Regions from separate parts of the Homo sapiens genome. Here all the other regions are linked to region 2. The links come from fine-mapping of genetic effects on gene expression. A gene starts in region 2. Each other region holds a variant in brackets. All regions are shown on one strand. Distances are from middle to middle.

The links. PIP is the estimated chance that this variant, and not a neighbour inherited with it, causes the effect.
Region 1: its variant is the best candidate, but not a certain one, in a credible set for the expression of CCDC66 in whole blood (INTERVAL, PIP 0.76).
Region 3: its variant is the best candidate, but not a certain one, in a credible set for the expression of CCDC66 in blood mononuclear cells (TOPMed, PIP 0.62).

The regions. Positions count from the first base shown.
Region 1 is chr3:56,634,153-56,638,152 of GRCh38, reverse strand. All of the region lies in intron 17 of TASOR (transcription activation suppressor), which reads left to right. Among named protein-coding and RNA genes, the nearest start is that of TASOR, 47 kb to the left of the region's middle. The variant C/A (reference allele first, on the strand shown) is at 1,761.
Region 2 is chr3:56,555,144-56,559,503 of GRCh38, reverse strand. It overlaps CCDC66 (coiled-coil domain containing 66), which reads right to left and starts at 2,329. Exons shown (of 18, transcript NM_001141947.3): 1 at 2,251-2,329; 2 at 594-658. The coding sequence starts at 2,261. RefSeq lists enhancers at 1,914-2,073, 1,542-2,213, 2,214-2,886.
Region 3 is chr3:56,591,846-56,596,205 of GRCh38, reverse strand. It overlaps CCDC66 (coiled-coil domain containing 66), which reads right to left. Exons shown (of 18, transcript NM_001141947.3): 8 at 3,105-3,236; 9 at 2,465-2,715; 10 at 2,178-2,262. Among named protein-coding and RNA genes, the nearest start is that of CCDC66, 37 kb to the right of the region's middle. The variant T/C (reference allele first, on the strand shown) is at 2,179.

The DNA of each region.
Region 1 (4,000 bases), 79 kb before region 2:
CCTCAGGTGATCCACCTGCTTCAGCCTCCCAAAGTGCTGGGATTACAGGCTTGAGCCCCCAAACCTGGGTTTCTTCTTTTTTAAATTTTTAAAAAATAGCCAAGAAGGGTAAGCCATTTATATTTTAGGTATACTATTCATAGTCTTTTAACCTAGTTCTTCTGATTGTAAAACTAATTTCTGCAGGTAGATTAAATAAGATTAAGAAACTTGGATTTCAGAAACAGTTGCAGATATTATTGATTAGCTAGTTGGCAGTGGGTACCTAGGAGATAATCTTTGTCTGATCTTGGTGGATTCAACTTCTCTGCAGATGGTCATAGGCATTGTTTTCTTGTTTACAGTTTGGTGGTGATCTTTTTTATATTTTCCTTCAGTTTTGTTGTATCTGACTCTTTTCAGAAATTAAAGTGTTGTTTTTTTATTTGTAAGAAATGTGAAATGACTACATCTTTGTAGTTATTTATTTCCTTTGGGAGTTCCCCTCCCCCGCTAATTAAAGTTACTAGTTTCCTTGAAGAAAATCTTCACCATCTCCTTCTAGGAAAATGTGGTTAAAAAAAAAAAGAAACCATGAACAACAGATATATAACATAGAGGAAAGTTCACAAATCTTTTTTTTTTTCCCCTCTGATACAGAATCTCTCTCTGTCACCCAGGCTGGAGTGCAATGGCATGATCTTGGTTCACTGCAACCTCTGCCTCCTGGGTTAAGCGATTCTCCTGCCTCAGCCTCCCAAGTAGCTGGGATTACAGGCATGTGCCACCGCACCCGGCTGATTTTTGTAGTTTTAGTAGAGACAGGGTTTCACCTTGTCGGCCAGGCTAGTCTCGAACTCCTGACCTCAAGTGAGCCACTGAACCTGGCCACAGATCTTTATTGTACAGCTTTTTGAAATTTTACATATGTACATGACCATCACCCAAATCAAGATGTAGAACGTTTCTAGCATCCCAGAAGATTTTCTTCCACATTCTCCTAGTTAGTACTCTCCTTGTTCCCAAGTAAGTGCTAATCTGATTAGTTTTGCCTGTTGTTGAACTTAGGATAAATAGAGCCTACTCATGTCGTCTCTCGTGTTTGGTACTTTCATGCAATATCGTGTCAGGGAGTCCATGTTTTGCATCTATCAGTAATTCTTTTCTGATTTCGGGGTTTTACCATGTTGGCCAGGATGGTCTCAATCTCTTGACCTCGTGATCTGCCCACCTTGGCCTCCCAAAGTGTTGGGATTACAGGTGTGAGCCACTGTGCCCGGCTAGTAGTTATCTTTCTTATGCTTCAGAATGTTCCATCAGCACCTGCATTCCTCTTATTTGGAAATACCATCTTTATATTTTGTAAGCTAAAGTGTAGACATCTGAATGATGGTGCCTTTAGAGAACTGACTACTCCCCTTTCACTTAAAAGTTAAAATACTGCAATTATTTAATGGCAATAAGTTTTTTTTTAAAAAAGCACGGTGTCTCATGTTTGTAATCCCAGCACTTTGGGAGGCCAAGGTGTGCGGATCAGGAGGTCAAGACATCGAGACCATCCTGGCCAACATGGTAAAACCCTGTCTACTAAAAATAAAAAAATTAGCTGAGCATGGTGGCTTGAGCCTGTAGTCGCAGCTACTCGGGAGGCTGAGGCAGGAGAATTGTTTGAACCTGGGAGGTGGAGGTTGCAGTGAGCCGAGATCTCACCACTGCACTCCAGCCTGGTGGCAGAGCGAGTCTCTGTCTCAACAACAACAACAACAACACCACCACCACCA[C/A]CAACAACAAAAGCTTTATTATGGATTGACATGTATGTGTGTTTTCAATCACTTATAGATGAAGATATTTTCAAAATAATTAAGTTTTGTTTTTTTTTTCTATTTTTTTTTGCAACAGAATCTTGCTCTGTTGCCCAGGCAGGCTGGAGTGCAGTGGTGCAATCTTGGCTCACTGCAGCCTCTGCTTCCTGAGTAGCTGAGATTACAGGTGCTCGCCACCACGCCTGGCTAATTTTTGTATTTTTTTTTTTAGTAGAGACGAGGTTTCACCATGTTGGCCAGGCTGGTCTCGAACTCCTGACCTCAGGTGATCTGCCTGCCTTGGCCTCCCAAAGTGCTGGGATTACAGGCATGAGCCACTGTGCCTGAGCAGTTAAGTTCTTAATAAAATCATACAGGGAAATTTGTGCAAAATAAAATTAGGTTGTGATTATTTATATTTTATAAAGGGATCTATTTGGTTTAGAGGTTTTTAATTATGGAAAATTCTCCATGTGGATTTAATTTATATTTCAGGTTAAAAATATTCCCTTTATTTATAACCCTTGAGGAGTAAACTTACTGGTTGTTGTTTAGCTATACATTTTGGGAGCCACTGTTGCATTTAAAGTAATAAATAGCTGGGTGTGGTGGTATGTACCTGTAATCCCATCTACTTGGAAGACTGAGGCAGGAGGAATTGAGGCCAGAAATTCAGGGCCAGTCTGGGAAACATAGTGAGGCCCCATGTCTAATAAATAATTCAGAATTTTTTAAATTAAGGTAGTTCTTCGCAACCCATATGTTTTATGAGATGCAATTCAATTTTTTTTCTTTGAATATATCAGATATTTGACATGATACGTAATTCAAGAAGTCCAAAAATACTTAAGAAAGTAATACTGCCCCAGCCCGGAACACTTAGATTCTTCCCCATATATTAGCCATGGTTACCAATTTCTCGTGTATCCTTCCAGACACTTTATGTGTACTAAAGCACATTTTAATGTTGGAGATTTAAGATACTCAGGATATTTAGTACTCCTAATTATCTTATGAAACTTGGATTTTCTGGTTTATCAATTTCATACAGTTCTAATTCTTATCCTGGCACGTTGGATATTTTGTTCCCCTCTCACCTCCGCCTACAGACCCGCCTTGGGTCTTTTCACTGTGCTGACAAATTGCCTTTGCAATAGTTAATGAGTGTACTGGTTCATGATAACCACCAGGATTGGTAGAGAATGTCATAAGCTCGACTCCTAGTGAGGCTATTTAAACCTTTAGAAAAGTGTGATGAGTGTGAGCAAAATCTTCACTGTAAGTTTGAAAACTACCTGTACCTGGACTTTCTGATTTAGAGGCACCATTTCCTATACTACAGCAGCAATTTGTTAGGGAATGTTGGCCAAGGCTTAAAGAAAAACAGTAATTTTTTAGCGGGTAAAATTGTGTATACGTCTTCTAAGCAAAGATCATGAGTTTTTGTCCTTTCCTAAAATATAACACTAAAATTGAAGTTAAATATATTTTTCCCCTTGTTGCTTAAAAATGGAATTAGAGTTCCCTTTTTCAAATGTAGTTTCAAAAACATACTGTGTTTGAATTTAGGATTTTTTTGGGGAAAGTATGATCTTTTGGATTGAGCTGTTTGTCAAGAGTGAAAGGTTTTAATCTCATTAGTATCAGCTAACCTTAGTATCAGCTAACATCTGTATCTCAAATGAGGTATAGCTATCTTTTCTTTTAGAATTATTTCCAAACAAAAGGAAAATATTTATGAAAGGACTGTCAAAAATGTGCAGCTGTGAAATATGTTCTTCTCTTGTCTTATTATTGTTCCTTTTATTTCCTGATAAAATGAAGTCCCTGACATTACAGGAAATCTACTTAGCAACCTCGTAAGTGAGAACAAGTCTGAAAGCAGATAAAATTAATTATCCTAGATCCTAGATGCAACTTTTAACTTGGCAGTTATTCCCACAGCATTTCTGTTTGGTATTCTTACAATTGCCTTACACTCAGAATTCTTACTAAGGGGCCATTACCATAGTAGATATTACTTGGCAAATAATAAATACAGGGATTGAGCAAGCTGATGTAATTGACTGTCTTGATTTAAAATGTGTATTAAACTTAGATCTACAGAATGGTAGGGAGGCAGAAACAAGCAAATGACTTAATTTGTATTGATGCCAAATTGGTGCTTGCTTGAGCGCTTCAAAATAGCAGAGTTGTTAACACTAGCTACAACTCTAAGG
Region 2 (4,360 bases):
AACTGTAATTAATATTGTTATAAGATTTTAAGCTAGCAACATTATCCTCGAAAGCATAAACTTTAGATCTTGACTGAGTATTTTTTTCTAATCCAGTTCAAGGATTTACTTCTATTTTATTTTTGTTTTTTATCTTTCCAAGGTAAAACTATAAACAGAAAAAAAAATGCGAAGGAGAAGGTACCAAAGTACACTGAGTTTAAAAACGAATACTAAAAGTGACTTTAGCATTTTACGGTGGTCTTACTATAAACTTTTCTCAAATGATACATTCTTTACATGCAAAGAACATAATTACATAAATTTTACTTGTATTATTCATCAGGCAATGAGGATATTTGCTATATGGATATAATGAACACGCAATATACTGGAACATTAAATGTTATGAGTCTGAATACTGACAGTAGTAAGCAGTGTTGTAATCTGATTTTATTTGGCTAGAAGGAAATCTGCAGAAGTTTGAGGAAACAGCTTTTTCTAAAATATCATTTAAATATCACTCTATTACAAGCAAAAAGTCTGTTGAACTAATATAAATTTTATGTATGAATTTAAAAGTTAACATTTCAGATTTCTGTAACACAACATACCATATGGAGACAATATTAGCTTGGTTTTTCCATCCAGTAATTCAGTTTCAAGCTTTAAACCATCTCTGTAATAAAAAAAGAAAGTTGTCTCTCATTTTTAACAAACCGCAACATTTTAAATAACCAGAAATGTTCATTTGAACCTGACAATAAATCCATTATTTTGAATTTATGCAGGAATCTTGTACACATCGAACCAGTGTTTTAATTAAAAACGTTTGCAATCCAAGATAAAACCCACAACTACAGGGGGAAAATTCTTGAAACTCTTCAATACTACAAGCATTGTTATCATTAACCTGAAATCTCATTTTGTTATTGGTAAACTATAAATTAAGTTATCATACCACCATTTTTTAATAATGCTGTTACCAAAACTCCTCACATAAGTTAAAGGAACAAGATATATTTAACCGCCATTCATTAGTTTCATAATGAACTCATGACTAAAACATTCTATGGAGTGCTGGAGCATCGATATGACTACTAACAATGCCATCAAGGTTAGTAACTGCTTGAGCAAAGAGTACCACTTTCAATATTTCAAATAATACATAGTGATATTTAGTATGGTGCTTTATACGTGCATATCAGAAGCAAAGGCATAAAGTAACAGTAGCCACTGCCAACAAAACTTGAACGTCTGTTAAGGTCCTAAAACTCCACTGAGAACAAAAATGGCAGCCCATACATACAGTCCATAATTCAGAGAGAGAAAATTAAATCCAGCAAGCCAGTCAAGGGAGAGAGAGGCTGGGAAAGGTCTGATTAGGAATGCGAAATTTGCGGTGTTGCTCAGGTAGGGGAAATCAAATTACCTCACCTTAACTATTAAAGGTAAAACACTGGAAAGAATAGGTTTTACGGCTTTCCTTATTGTAGGGTTATGAACAGTTCGTGTTTATGTTGGTGAAACGTCACCAAGAAAGAAAAGAGCTTCAATGGTAAAGTACCTTCAATGACGCACTGCACTGTAATCTCCTTAAGGGACACACTATCTTATTTATTTCCATATCCCCAGATTCTAAAACATAATAACATTTGCTGAACGATGTGTAGTTAGGTCTGAGTTTGGTGGCTTCTCATCTTCTCAAAATATCAAACTTGCGAGTGATGAAGACCATGCACCAGCCCTTTTTATTTATTCACCCCTACTTAAGGAGCGCCTACTAGGTGTTAGGCACTGGTACTACATCGATTTCTTGAGAAGCCTGGTTCCCCGCCTCGTGGGCCTAAAACGAATTTGGGCGTTTCAACATTCTGCAAGACTCCAAAAACAAGGTGGCGAAGAACCCGGGGCATGGGCCAGGAGTCCTCCCCAGGAGCCGCCACGCTTCCTCTAACTGTCTCGTCATTTCTCTCCTTTCCTCCTCACCTCTCTTCCCTCCTCATCCTGAGGTAAATAAGGGACCGAAAGGGGATCACTGGCAGTTTTAATGCTAGTCATTAAGTGAAAACGTAAGGTCTGTGGAGTCGCTAAGGGCCGACCCATCTGCCTCGATCTTCTACCCGAGAACTGGGCTCTGCCCCTCTCGGCGGCGCAGGTTGGGAACGTTCTCCAGTAAAGACTCCAAGGGACAACCCAGACACACATGCCTCCCTCTCCGCTGACGACCACCTTGCTTACCCCAGCTTACCCCAGCTTACCCCTGCTTACCCCAAGTTCATGGCCTGACCTCGCACTCTCTCCACAGAACGCTCAAGCCCCTTGTGTACGTCGGTTGCCGCCGCCGCTCAGCAAGCGCTACGCCAATTGGATATAGGGGTGCCGGCGAGCTGAGCAAGTGGACCAATCAGGGTGGGGCATGCTGGCGGGTGCGCTGAGCTGGGCCGGGGCTCCCGCGGGGACGGTTGCGTATGCCGTTTGTTCCCCTTTTGTGCCCCGTTTGTGCCGTTTGTTCCCCTACGCACAGCGGAATTTGGCCTGACCCGGCTTATGAGTCTAAAGCTTCGGTGGCGGAGACCTGCGCTTCTCGCAATTGTAGCCTTCCAAAGCGCGTACACAGACACACACACACACACACACACACACACACACACACACACACACACACACACACACACACACCTTTTTGGGGTCACCATTTGCAAGTAAGTTACAGACATTGTAACACTTAACCCTTTAACATTGCAGACATTGTAACACTTAACCCTTTAACATTGCAGCATGTATCTCCTAAGAATAGATGTTCTGCTACATAACCGCAGTACAATTATTATACCTAAGATCATTAATTTCATAATAATTCTCTTCCCGATTTAATTTCCCCCACTTGTCCTAAGAATATCTTATAGGCATTTTATTTAGAAAGCAAGAGCCAATCGCGCCACTGCATTCCAGCAGCTTGGGCGACAGAGTGAGACTCCGTCTCAAAAAAAAAAAAAAAAAATGCAAGAGCCGATCAAGGATCACACATTACATTTGGTTGTTAAGTATCTTTGCACACACTCTTTCCAGACAAAAACAATGAAAGGTATTAATTATTAAATGCCTGACAAACCTTTACTTTTTTATTTTTTATTGTTGTAATATGTGTGTTAAAATTTGCTATTTTTAGCCATTTTCAAGTGACAATTCCATGATACAATGTTGTGGAATACGCCAGTATATTTTTCCAAAAGCTTTTTAGTACCCCCAAATAAAAATTCTGTACCCATTAAGCAACAACTTCCCATTTTCCTCTCCCCTCAATCCTAAGAAACCTCTAATCTTATTTCTGTCTCTAGGAATTTGCCTATTATAGATACTTCATGTCATAAAAGTGGAATCATACAATATTTGTCCTTTTGTGTCTTCTCTCAAGTAACATAATGTATTCAAGGTGCATCCATGTTGTAGGATGTATCAGAGCTTCATATCTGTTTATGATTGAATAGTATTCCATTCTATGTATATATATACCACAATTCGTTTACTCATTCATCCATTAATAGACATTTGGGTTGTTTCCATCTTTTAGTTATTGTGAATAATGCTGTAGTGAACACTGATGTACAAGTATCTGTTTGAATCCCTATTTTCAATTTTCTTGGTATACACCTAAGAGTGGAATTACTGGGTCACATGGTAATTCTATGGTTAACTTTTCGAGAAACTGCCAAACTGTTTTCATAACAGTTGCAGCATCTTACATTTCTGCCAGCAATGTATATGAGGTTCTAATTTCTTCACCCCAACACTTGCTTTTTCTTTTTCTTTTCTTTCTTTTTTTTTTTTTTTTAGAGACAGGGTTTTGCTCTGTCACCCAGGCCGCCTACATTGGTACGAACATAACACTGTAACCTCGAACTCCTGGTCTTAAATGATCCTCCTGTCTCAGCCTCCCAAGTAGCTAGGGCTACAGGCATGCACCACTACGCCTGGTTAATTTTTAAAAAAATTTTTGTAGAGACAGAGTCTGTTTACGTTGCCCAGGCTGGTCTCAAACTCCTGGCCTCAAGTAGTCCTCCCACCTCAGACTCCCAAAGTGCTGGGATTATAGGCGTGAGCCTGTAGCCAGAATGATTTCTAAAATGTGAATCTGCTTAATTCACTCTGCTTCTTAAAATCTCTCAATATAGGAGAACGTCCTTAACTTGATAAGCAATATCTACAAAAAATCTCCTAGAGACCGGGTGTGGTGGCTTATGCCTGTAATTGCAGCACTTTGGAAGGCCAAGGCAGGAGGATTGCTTGAGTGTAGGAGTTCGAGACCAGCCTGGGCAACATGGTGAGACTCTATCTCTATTTTTTAAAAAAATCCTGTAGAGCCCAATATCACACTTAA
Region 3 (4,360 bases), 37 kb before region 2:
GGCTCATGCCTGTAATCCCAGCACTCTGGGAGGCTGAGGTTGGAGGACTGTTTGAGGCAAGGAGCTCGAAACCAGTCTGGTCAACATAGTGAGACTGTGTCTCTATAAAAGAAAAAAATTAACATTAGCCTGACATGGTGGCGCATGCTTGTAATATCAGCTACTGGGGAGGCTCGGGCAGCAGGATTGCTTGAGCCCAGGGGTATGAGGCTACAGTGAGCCATGATTATGCCACTGCATACCAGACTGCGCAGCAGAGCAAGACCCTGTCTCAAAAACAAGCAAACAAACAAACATACCAAAAGACAAAAACTAACAGATACTGCCAAGGAAGCGGAGAAAAGGGAATCCTTATACATTGTTAGTGGGAATGTAAATAAATACAGTCACTATGGAAAACAGTATGGAGACGTCTCAAAAAACTAAAAATGGAACTACCATATGATCCAGCATTCCCAGTACTGGATATTTATCGAAAGAACATGAAATCTGTATATCAAAAGGAAACCTGCACTCTTGTGCTAACTGTAGCACTATTTACAATCTGAGTGTCCATTGATGAACAAATAGATAAACAAAATGTGGTATATACACAATGGGATACTATTTGGCCATAAAGAAAGAATAGAATCTTGTCATTTACAGCAACACAGATGGGACTGGACGTCATTATGTTAAGTGAAATAAGCCAGGTATATAAAGATAAACATCACATGTTCCCACTCATATGTGGGAGCTAAAAAAGTAGGTCTCAACGAGCTAAAGAATGGAATGATAGGTATCAAAGGCTGGGAAGGGTGTGTGTGAGGGTGGTAGTGATCAAGAGAGGTAGGTTAATGGGTACAAACATATGGTTAGATGAAAGGAATAAGTTCTAATGTTTGATAGCAATAGTAAGGTGACTATGGTCAGCAACAATGTATTATATATTTCAAATTGGCTAGTAAACTTGAAATGTTCCCAACACAGAAATGATAAATACTCAAGGTGATAGATACCAGAATACTCTGGCTGAATCATTACGCATTCTACATATATAACAAAATATCATATGTATCCTATAAATATATAAAACATTATATATCAATTTTTAAAATCCATGAAGCATTAGTTTGGTGACTGTAGAAATAAGTTTTTATCAGCATACTGAAAGTATTATTTATATAAGTGAAGTGGAAATGTCAAATTTCCAATGCATTTCTCCCATCTCCCATTTGTACTGTCAAGTTCTACATGCCTTTTCTTCAACCCTAGGAGGGCTACTGGAGGAAATGGTATTAAAAAAAACTGAAGAAATAATCTCAGTGCTTAGCATAGTGCCTGTTAAGTAGCAGATGCTCTGCAAATGTCTGCTCACTGACTAAGCATAACATTAATGATGCCAAATTCATATATCAAAGGATTTGAAGAATTATGCAGATATTAAAGTCCCTTTAGCATTAGGCTAAAATCAGGACAGGAAGTTTTAATTTTAATTTTAGCCTCCTTTCTTATATTATGCATTAGATTTCTTTTTTTTTTTTGAGATGGAGTCTCACTCTGTCGCCCAGGCTGGAGTGCAGTAGCACAATCTCAGCTCACTGCAAGCTCTGCCTCCCAGGTTCATGCCATTCTCCCACCTCAGCCTCCCGAGTAGCTGGGGACTACAGGCGCCTGCCACCACGCCCAGCTAATTTTTTGTATTTTTAGTAGAGACGGGGTTTCACCATTCACAGGATGGTCTTGATCTCCTGACCTCGTGATCTGCCCACTCAGCCTCCCAAAGTGCTGGGATTACAGGCGTGAGCCACCGTGCCCGGCCATTATGCATTAGATTTCTTAGTCATAATTCTAGTTCAATCCCTATTCAAAGAATGAATTCTCATCTTAAACAGAACTCAGGAGAAATAAATTGATGAAAAAAAAAAAAACCAGTACTAACCTAAGACAACACAAATTCACATATACAACTTAATATATTAAAGACCTTCTGTACTGGAAGGCAGGTGGCTGTAGCATTTGATAAGCTAATTCTAATATTACAATGCCAGTTGTGGTAGGGATTGGATTCGTGACACAACTGGACAGGACCTATGCTGTAAAGTTTACATCAGAATTTAAATTTCCATTTACTTAGGTATATGTTCACCATGACTGTTACTTATTAAGGTAAAGAACAATGTTTAACAATGCAATACC[T/C]GATGCTCTAATTGTTTTTGTCGTCGTCTGTCTCGTTCCTCAATCTGAGCTGGGTCCAAGAGAGCAGTCATAGAACGGAGAAAGCTGGCAAGATACATACATTAGCTATTCAAAACCTCAAAAAGGTAGATTCAACAAGCTAAATCATTTTTGTTTGGGATAAATCTACTAATTATTTCTATTTCAAAGACAAATACCAAACCTGAAACCAATTAGACATAACAACAGTCTTACTAAAGCACACAGACTTTCTGAAAAGTCAATAAATACATAAGCATGAACTTACTTTGTTTTCTTACTGTTTGCCATAACCACATCCTTAATAGGTTTTGCTATATGCTCCTCCTCTGAAGGTTCAACCTGGCTTCCGGTTGTAGGTGTACAAACACTGCTGACATCAGCCAGCTCCTGAGTGTCAGGAGAGACACAGAAGTACTCAGGTTGTTTGTGTGTTGACTGAGAGAACAGCTGAGATTGAGAACCAGGATAACTCTTTAATGAATCAAAGTGCATTGCCCATCTGTCATGTTCCTCACCCTAATGATGACAAATAAGAATTGCTAAGAATTTTTCCAATTATTCTCATATATAATTCTAAATGACAACCAAAGATGATTTCTAAAAGTCACCTTAGAGCAGAATAAGCATCATAAAAATTAACAAGACTGTACTGTTTAGAGTCCTTATACATATAGATCACTAGCTTTGAAAATTTGAGAAATTCAAAGAATTAGGAAATTTCTAAAAAGTTGTAAGAAGCTATGCAACATCACATAATGCATTCAATGAAACAGGTTCACATGGGCAAATGTGGAATAAATGGAATATTCTGGTCTTGTCAAGAGTTTCAGAATACTTCTAGTTTTAATTGATTAAAGACTTTGATTTTATTTTTTCTTTTATAGCCACAAAACCTCATAAGTTACCTTTGAATATATAATTTTTTCCTCTATTTTTCTTTGACGGTCATCTTCTATTTGCTTATTCAACTCTTCAATCCATTTTCTTTGCAGTTCTTGTTTCACAGCACTGAAAGGGTGCTCCAGCAGTACTGTTTCCTAAACAACAGCCATAAAAGCCATCTAAAGTTCAGTTCTCTTTTTCTAATCACTTAATATGTGCAAATCTTGCCAAAGTAACATACAGATTTAATCCACTGAGGCATTTATCTGTAAGAGGAGCAATAACTTCAAACGAATTTGAATTCAAAGAATTAAGTAGATATATTCTGATTCTCAGAATCATATTTTAAATATACTAGATCAGAGATATATAATAAGATATCTAAGTGTAAGGGAAGGGAATTTTCTAATGAAAAACAGAAAATTCTTTCTCCAAAACAATTAAAAGACTTTCAAAATTCAGCTGGATGCAGCAGCTCATGACTATAATCCCAGCATGTTGGGAGGCTGACATGGGCAGATCACTTGAGCCCAGGAGTTCAAGGCCAGCCCCTGGCCAACATGGCAAAATCTCATCTCTACTGAAAAAAAAAAAAAAAATTAGCCAGCTGTGGTGGTGCATGTCTGTAATCCCAGCTACTTGAGAGGCTGAGACACAAATCACTTGAACCCGGGAGGTGGAGGTTGTAGTGAGCTGAAATCATGCCACTGCACTCCAGCATGGGCAACAGAGTGAGACCCTGTCTCAAAAATATTGTTTTTCAAAATTCTAAGTCTCTTTTAGAGGCTGAAAGAGTTATTAATTTAAAACAGATGAATATTGTTTTACATTTGGCTTTGGAATACAACATTTGGAATATTGTCTTTGGACCAAGAACAAGGAGAATATAGAAAGATGTGTGAGAGCAAGAGACTTTCCCTATTGAATCATGTCTCTCTCTAGGAGAACCTCTGTCTTCTAGGTTTCTGCTACTACAGCTCTATCACAGCCTATGATGTTTCAATAACAAAAATATACTGTGTCCAGAACGAGTCTTTGAATCTTAAGGAAAAAGTAAAAAATGAAAACAGTAGCATAAAAGTTTGCTGCCACTTTAATTGATGAGTTTAGGATACTCTTTTAAAAAAGGAAAAAAATATATTCTACTCAAATTCTTCTGAAATGCAACAGGCAAACAACAAAACATTTCATTACATGAAATAACTACAAGACATAATTAAGAAAAACTGTTTGACAGAATCCTACAATGACGATATACCTCACAATGTTACTTTCTTCC